Homo sapiens: one gene and its partner. The protein of the gene in region 1 purifies or fractionates together with the protein of each later gene. This does not show direct contact. Each region holds a gene or a part of one and is shown on either strand. Other genes may lie near its edges.

Evidence for each region.
Region 2: the proteins of CARHSP1 (region 1) and IMPA2 fractionate together in Homo sapiens (co-fractionation; one large-scale study listed by BioGRID). This does not show direct contact.

What each region holds. Positions count from the first base shown.
Region 1 is NC_000016.10:8,866,670-8,870,568, reverse strand, and holds the start of CARHSP1 (calcium-regulated heat-stable protein 1), read left to right. Parts: upstream 1-1,562; 5' UTR 1,563-1,603; intron 1,604-1,849; exon of another isoform or gene 1,850-2,037; intron 2,038-2,167; exon of another isoform or gene 2,168-2,520; intron 2,521-3,140; exon of another isoform or gene 3,141-3,317; intron 3,318-3,899. UniProt on the Homo sapiens protein: Binds mRNA and regulates the stability of target mRNA. Binds single-stranded DNA (in vitro).
Region 2 is NC_000018.10:11,979,839-11,983,737, forward strand, and holds the start of IMPA2 (inositol monophosphatase 2), read left to right. Parts: upstream 1-1,668; 5' UTR 1,669-1,831; coding exon 1,832-1,927; intron 1,928-3,899. UniProt on the Homo sapiens protein: Phosphatase that can use myo-inositol monophosphates, myo-inositol 1,4-diphosphate, scyllo-inositol-1,4-diphosphate, glucose-1-phosphate, beta-glycerophosphate and 2'-AMP as substrates in vitro.

The DNA of each region.
Region 1 (3,899 bases):
AAGCTCCGCCTCCCGGGTTCACGCCATTCTCCTGCCTCAGCCTCCCGAGTAGCTGGGACTACAGGGGCCCGCCACCGCGCCCGGCTAATTTTTAATATTTTTAATAGAGACGGGGTTTCCCCGTGGTCTCGTTCTCCTGACCTCGTGATCCGCCCGCCTCGGCCTCCCAAAGTGCTGGGATTACAGGCGTGAGCCACCGCGCCCGGCCTATTTATTTATTTTTAACTTTTTTTCCCCCCCGAGACGGAGACTCGCTGTCGCCCAGGCTGGAGTGCAGTGGCATGATCCTGGCTCACTGCAACCTCCACCTCCCGGGTTCAAGTGATTCTCCTGCCTCAGTCTCCCAAGTAACTGGGATTACAGGCACCCGCCACCAAGCCCGGCAAATTTTTGTATTTTTCATAGACACGGGGTTTCGCCATGTTGGCCAGGCTGGTCTCCAACTCCTGAGCTCAAGTGATCCTCCTGCCTCGGCCTCCCAAAGAGCTGGAATTACAGGCGTGAGCCACCGCACCCGGCCTCAAGTAAATTTTTGTGTGGACAAACATTTTTATTTCTCTTGGGCGCGCAGACACCTAGGAGTGGAGTTGATGGGTTTTATGGAGACTCCAGGGCTCGTGGTTTGAGGAACCGCCGGGCTTTTTCCACAGCAGCTGCGCGGTTGTTCCCACCAGCCGTCTAGGACGGTTCCTTGCCTGGCTTGGACTAGTTGGTTTCGCTGCTGGGCCTTTTCCCCAGTGGCCCCAATAGGGGCTGCAGAGTGAGGCAGGCACAGTCCTCACCGCCGCCTCCGGGGGCCCTGTTGTCCCGGGCGAGCTCCGGGGACCTCTCTCCTTCCCCGCGCCCCTCAAATACCAAGCTGACCCTGGTCCCGGGATCTAGGCTCGCCTTCAGGGGCTGCTCTCGACTGGCCGTGCCCATGGGCTGGTCGCCTCTCTGTGCCTCAGTTTCCTCTCCTGCAAAACAGAGGTAACATTTTTTACCTCCAAAAACAGAGGACTCAAGGAAGGCTAGAAATGAAACAAGAGAAGAGAACAAAATCAAAATCCCCAACGAGAAAACAAAACCCTGTTTTTCTGGTGTGTGTGTGCGTGTGTATTTTTTCTTTCCCTTTTCCTCCTTTCTGTTTTTTGCTTGTTTTCTTCCGTCTCTCTTTTCATTCCTTTATTTCCTTTCTGCTAAAAGTGACACCCTCCGGGATTATACAGATTTTAGAGCCAAAGGCAGGTGGGAGCCGCACCTGGCGCGCGTGGCGAGGGGAAGGAACTGCACGGGCGCAGGGACACAGTTCCCCCACTTTGCAGGGGCGTTTTCTGCTGGTGGGTGCAGCCCAGCTCCGCCCCGCCCCGCCCCGCCCCGGCCCCTACGTCCCGCGCTCTGCGTTCCGCTCTCCCGCCAGTCTAAGGCGCGGACACAAAGGTCCTGTCCGGGCCACTCCCGCCCCGCCCGCCCCCACCGTCCCGGGCTCCCTCCCGCAGCCCCATTGGCCGGGAGCTCCTGGGGGCGGGGATCGGCGCCCCACCCCCCCTCGGGCCACGCCCCCTCCCCAGCTCCGCGCTCTCAGTCGGAGCGAAGCGGCTGGCGGAGCAGAACGGATTGCAGGGTAGGGAGCTCTTCTCGGGGACCCCAGGATAGGCGCCCCTGGCCCGCGGCCCCGGGAGCCGCAGGGGTGGGGCCTCGGCCTCCTCTGCCTCCATCGTCCCCCATCCTGCAGGGTCTTCTAGCTCGGCAGAGGAGGGCTCCGGGCTGGGTTTCTCGGGGCCTGTTTGGGGAACGCGGGTTGCTCCTCCCCAGGGGAAGGGGTGGGTGTGGCAACAGCGGCAAGGATTCTAGGCGGACGTCGGGTAGTACTTCCCGCCTGGCCACCTGTTCTCTGCGTGCAGGGGAAGCTCTTCCCGCCCTCCCCGCTGCTTTTGCCTTTGGGCGGGAGCCCTGGACGGGGGACTCGCCGGGCGGTGGGGCGAGGCGCGGGGGGCGTCGCACGCGGGAAGCAGAGCCACCCCCCGCCGGGCCTGGCCGCGCCAGCTGTGGCTCGAGGTTGGGACGGCGGCCAGGCCCGGCGGGGGAGGTGGGGAGCCGTCCTGGCGCCGCGCGATTAGCCGCATCTGGGGGAGGAGGAGCCGCCGGGCGCGCTGGGCCCGGGTGTTTGCGCCCGGATGGGGGTGGGGGTGCCTTAGGCGCTGGAGAAAAACTTCACCCGCGCCCACAGGCCCCCTTTCCGCAGGCTGCGCTGGCGGTTCAGGTTTGCAGGCCGGAAGTGAAATGTTCTTTTTTGATTTTTAAAAAGGAAGCCTCCGGCCCTATGGTTTTCTGGGGTTGGAGTGGATGTGTGTGCTGGGGGAGGCGGAGACGTCCCGCTCCAGGCAGGGCCTTGGGTCTTAATAGGTGGGGAAATCTCTGCCAAATAGGAGGCCTCTCGGAGCCTCAGTTTCCCCATCTGCAGACTGGGCTCTGACTTCTTCTGGCATGAGAGGGTGTGTGAGAGTAAAAGGAGGCAGCTAGCCCCGTGCCGGGAGACACGTAAGCTACTGTTTTTTAACTTGCTGTTTTGATATTTCTCAGTCTCTCTGTGCCCAGTCTTGCTTGCCCCTGTCATTTGCTGCCACTCTGAAGCCAGAGGGAACTTAGAAAAACAATCCGCTTAGATCTACCCCACGCTGAAAATCGTCCACCGAAGTCCCATTGTCGTCTAAGTCCCCAACTTCTCAGCAGGGCTTCCTGTTATCTTCCGCCACTACCTTCTCCAGCCTCTCTCTGCCTCTGTTCTCCCTCCCTTCGGGCCTTTGGCCCTCCTCTGGGCTCGGGGTCCTCCTTGGAGACCCCACCGCCCTCTGCACTCCCTGGGTGGCCTCGGTGATGACCGTGAGTTCTCGATGCTGGTCCCTTCAGGGCAAGAAAGAGGCGCAGAGCCCGGCTGGGAGTAGATGTTTTCAATGAGCTGAGCTAGGCCTGGCGTGGGGCCATGGGGTGGGGTTGAGGGTGGTTGACGGTGGGTCCCCTAGGTAGGGGATCGGTCTTTGTTCCACCGAGTGGCAAAGCCAGCGCATTTGGTTTGTGTTCCATCAGCAGGGGCAGGAATGGGAGGGAAGGTGATTTCAGATGGGCCCGTGCCTGACACTTCCACCATCAGCCGCACTATTGTGGACTGAGCCCGCCGTGCGCTTGGCATTTTCGCGGCACCATCTGCACAGCGTCCGAGCCCTGCGACGCAGCACCGCTCCTGTCCCCTTTGACAGATGAGGAAACTCGGGTGGGGCGGTGAAATCGCCTGGCAGGGGTCACAGAGGGAGTGGGGACCAGTCAGGGCTCAATCTCAGGTCTGAGCCAAAGCCCCCCGAGAATGGAGGGAAGGATGGAGGGATTGAGTGGGGGAGGCGTGTAGAGTAGGGTTCTTGTTGAGAAGGAGGGCTTGGGCTTCCCGCAGGAGGGGCAGTCCAGGCTGAGAACTGGGGCGGGCGCAGGGTCCCAGGTGGGTGGTGGCGGTGGGGTGACCGTCTCCCTGCTGGGTGGGGTCGCCCGTCCGGTCGAGGCCGTCCAGGGGTGCTAATGGGGGCACAGGCAATGGCAATGTTGGAGGCCCCCTTGGGTTCCCGGTACACTCCTCGGGTTTCCGGCCTCTTCCCAGCACTCAGGGGCTCCTGAGGGCGGAAGAGCTATTCCCAGCTTGGCGGGGCCTGGGAGGGGGCTCTGGGCAGACGTAGGCGCCGGGCTGCACCTTCCCTGCCCGCCTGTTTGCACTTCTCTGTGACTGTTGGCTTCAGGTCCTTAGCCAGCGGAGGGCTGACTCCGGCCTGGCTGCCCCCTCCCCTTTGCCTCCCGTCCCTCCCCCTGGACACTCCAACCCCCATCCCTTCGTGTCCCTCCCCCTCCTCTCTCTCTGCTCCTCCCTCGCCAGACCC
Region 2 (3,899 bases), on another chromosome or scaffold:
ATTACAGGCGTGAGCCACCGCACCCGGCCTCTGTCTTAAACATCATAAAAACATAAGAACCCAAAAAAGATGGAGGGGAGTGCGCCCTTAGCTGCCCCAAACTGGCGTGGTGGGAGGCAGGGCAATTGGTCTAGTTTTCTGAGCCGTAGGATTAGGGCTCTGGGTGAGGCCAGAGTCCCTAAAGTTGTACCCATATCTGCGTGTTTGTATTTCCTGTTTGTAATTCCTCCTGTTTGTACTTTTTGTCTCTTATACGGTACACTTAAAGTTTCTCCACAAGGTGTTTCAGCATAAAGTACTCAAAAACTAAAAACGTTTAATTTCATTATTAGGTTAAGTGTGTAAAAAATGCCCCATCAAGGTTCTTGTACAAACTCCCATTATTCTCCCAGACTCCGAAGTGGCACTCCAGAATAATTTTACGTGGGTTAGCATCTTTTATAAAACGGGCAGGCAGAGCGGCTTATGAAATTAACCTTGGAAACCACGCGGCCACTCTTTCGGGAAATGCCTCCTATTTATGTTTACATGGGCCAGCAAGAGAATCCAAGGTTGGAAAGGTCATTCCTCACTACAGAGGCTCATCGCAATCACAGTTCCGTCTCCAAATTCGAGTTTTGGGTGTGAAGAGTTTATAAAGTCCAGCCGCTGTCCTCGCAGTGTTTGGGGTTAGCGGAGGGAGAGCTTGTTTGCGACCAAACTTGCCGCGCGGGGCGGCCGCTTGCAGGAACACTGCGGCCTTGTGCGCTCGGCGGTCTGAGCTCCTGCGAGGCCGAGAACGACGCCTAGCGCCCAGCGGCCTCCGCGAACAAAAAGCGACCGGTCGGAAGGTGCTGGCCCAGCCGCCCCTGGCGCTCGAGCCCGAATCCGGCCACAGACCATGAAGGGACGCCCGGCACCACGTGCGCGGGGATCCGCGGACGGGACGCTCCCCGGCACCTCCGGGGCTGGGCCGGCACCGCACGGTCCCACCCAGACAGTAGCTGCCCCGGGCCCCCAAAACAGCCGCTCCTAGCTCCTCCCTCCCAGCTCTGCGGTGGCCCAAGCCGCCCTCCGCGCGCTTGACCCAGAACAGTACGGAGTTCTGCACGAGCCGGGGGTGGGGCCTGTCTCAGCGCGCGGCGGTGGGGCGGGGCTTGGACACGGGCCCGGCTCAACTTGAGGGAGGCGGGGCTCGAGGCTCAGAGGAGTTGGAGCCCGCTCTGCGCGCTGCGGGACGGGGCACGGCGGAGCAGGGTTGGGTCCGCCTCGAGCGGGGAGGGTGATGCTGCACCACAGGGGCGGGGCTGGAGGTAAAGCGCGGAGCGGAGAGGGACCAGGCTCGGCACTGATTTGTGTTCAGGGCTAGCCCAGAGGGGCGGGGCCAGGTACGGGGCGCAGCCGGGAGCGGGAGGGGCGGTGCAGGACGGGGCCGGGCACGGCGCGGGAAGAGGCCAGGAGCAGCAACGGGTGCGGGGCGGGGCCGGGAGCGTCAAGGGGCGGGGAAGAGGGGGGAATGGGCGGGGCCGAGCTCTGCGAGGGGCGAGGTGGGGAATGCAGAGCGGGGCCGGACGCGGGAGCAGGGAGCTGGGCGGGGAGCGGGGCGGGGAGCTGGGCTGGGCTCGGCACGGGGCGGGGCGGAGGGTGGGGAGCGGAAAGCAGGACGCACGGCTCCCGCGGCCCGCTGGCTGCCCTTCCCGCCAGCGCAGGTGTGGGACGGGCGGCGGACTAGGCACAGAGCTGCGGGAGCAGGCACAGGGAGTGTGGAGCCTGGCGGCGGGACGGCGGGATCCGGTGGGAGCCGGAGTCCCGCCGAGGGGGGCTGGAGGTGGAGGGGCCCGGCGAGGCCGCGATGAAGCCGAGCGGCGAGGACCAGGCGGCGCTGGCGGCCGGCCCCTGGGAGGAGTGCTTCCAGGCGGCCGTGCAGCTGGCGCTGCGGGCAGGACAGGTGAGCGCCACGGCTGGGCTCGGAAGTCCGGGCGGAGCAGAAGCGCGTGGGCCTTGGGAGCCGCCTGGAGTGGCGGGGTCCTGGCGCGCAGCCGGCGGGCGCCCAGGGTCCGCACCCGAGGGCGCGGGGCGCGGAGCGGTGAAAGGAGCCTTTGTGCTGGTGTCCTGGACACACCTCCCGCGCCCTTCTCCAACTCCCGGAGCCCTGGCGGCGAGCCCCTCTGCTTTGGAGTTCAGCGGCTAACGTGACCTTTGCGTTTGAGTGAGTGGTCAGAATGTAGAAATCTCTCCAGGGGTAGCGTACGGGGCTGTTGATTTTTAAGGACCTATGAACGGATTCAGCTCGCGGTAGGAAGCCCGGGGCTAAGCCCCAGCCGCGTGGGGATCTGGCTGGGCTGCCGTTTGATTGTCCTGGCTGCAGCATCCTCAACCCAAACTTACTCTGACCCACACCCTGAAAGTGGCTCAGCTCCGCGACGGCCACGGACTCAGAGTTCAGGAGGAACTTGTTACACTGCCCGGAAGGATGAAAACCGAGCCGCAGAGCTACCGAAAACCAGCGAGCAGAGTTTAAAATGGAGTGCAGTTCCTCTCTTCTCTTTTTCATTTTTGTGATTGTTCCTTCCACTTTCCTCAGTACCTTTAGCAGTGCCTGACACACCGACGGTAGTGGTAGGCAAGCGAGTGTTGGTTCTCCCAGGACTGTAAGATGGCTTACTCCATGTTTGTCTCTTAGGATGTGATTGTGGGCCGGGCGCAGTGGCTCACGCCTGTAATCCCAGCACTTTGGGAGGCCGAGGCGGGTGGACCACTTGAGGTCAGGAGTTCGAGACCAGCCTGACCAACATGGTGAAACCCCGTCTCTACTGAAAATACAAAATTAGCTGGGCATGGTGGCGCGTGCCTTAGTTCCAGCTATTTGGGAGGCTGAGGCAGGAGAATCACTTGAACCTGGGAGGCGAAGGTTGCAGTGAGCTGAGATCGCGCCATTGCACACCAGCCTGGGCAACAAGAACAAAACTCCGTCTCAAAAAAAAAAAAAAAAAGTGATTGTTTTCGGGGATTTTAGAGACAGGAGGTGTGCTGAGAGCAGATTGGCCTTTTATATTCAAACATTTGTTTTCTTTTTTGAGGTCTGACAGTCCGAAAATGCTCTACCAGTTTCCCTAGATGTTGAAATCGGACTGTTATCAATCTTAAATTTGAAGTGAGTCGTCATAAAGTGGATAGTGCTTTACCTTGGTGCAAATCCTCTAATCCTGTTTAAAAATTAATCTGCAATACTAAGTAGACTCATTTTTTGTTGAAGGGCCTTCCTTCCCTTTGTAGTTTGAAGAACCCAAGCCTCAGACCGTAAAGAATGAATGAATTTAAGAGTGTTGCGAAACTCCACCCTTTGACCTTTCCCTCCTGTAGGAAAAGGAGGACCCTAAACCTTCCTGCAAGGCAGATGAAGCTTGTAGCTTCAGTGCAAGCGTTCTTCCTGGAAAGCAGAGCTGCTGTGTGCATGGAACACGGGTTCTCCTTCCATCCTTCCCTGCCTCCCAGCTTTCCTTCCAGAGCAAGCATCAGCCAGATATTTAGGAACTTTTAGGTTCTACTGTAAAACTTTTCTTCCTTGAGGCAGTGAAAAGCCAGCTTAGGATTCAGACATTGCTGTGTAAACCCTGGCGAGCTAAGTTAGGAGTTTCTGTGGTTTTCAAATTTAGATCCTTGAAGAAACAGAAGATTTTAAAATTTTATGTTATTATTTAACAAATGTGCATAAAGAGCTTGCAATAGAGCAGGAACAGTTCTAAGGCTCCTATGACTTTTAACTTAAGAGATATTTTATGTTTTTGCAACTTGCCAGCAACAAAAAAAGCTTTTTTTAAACGCTGGAGAGGGTTGCAATAAAGATGCTGCCATTAGGAGTCCGGTCAGGAAGCCCGGGCCGCCCGGGGCTCCCCCTCAGGCATTATGCTGATGCTTCC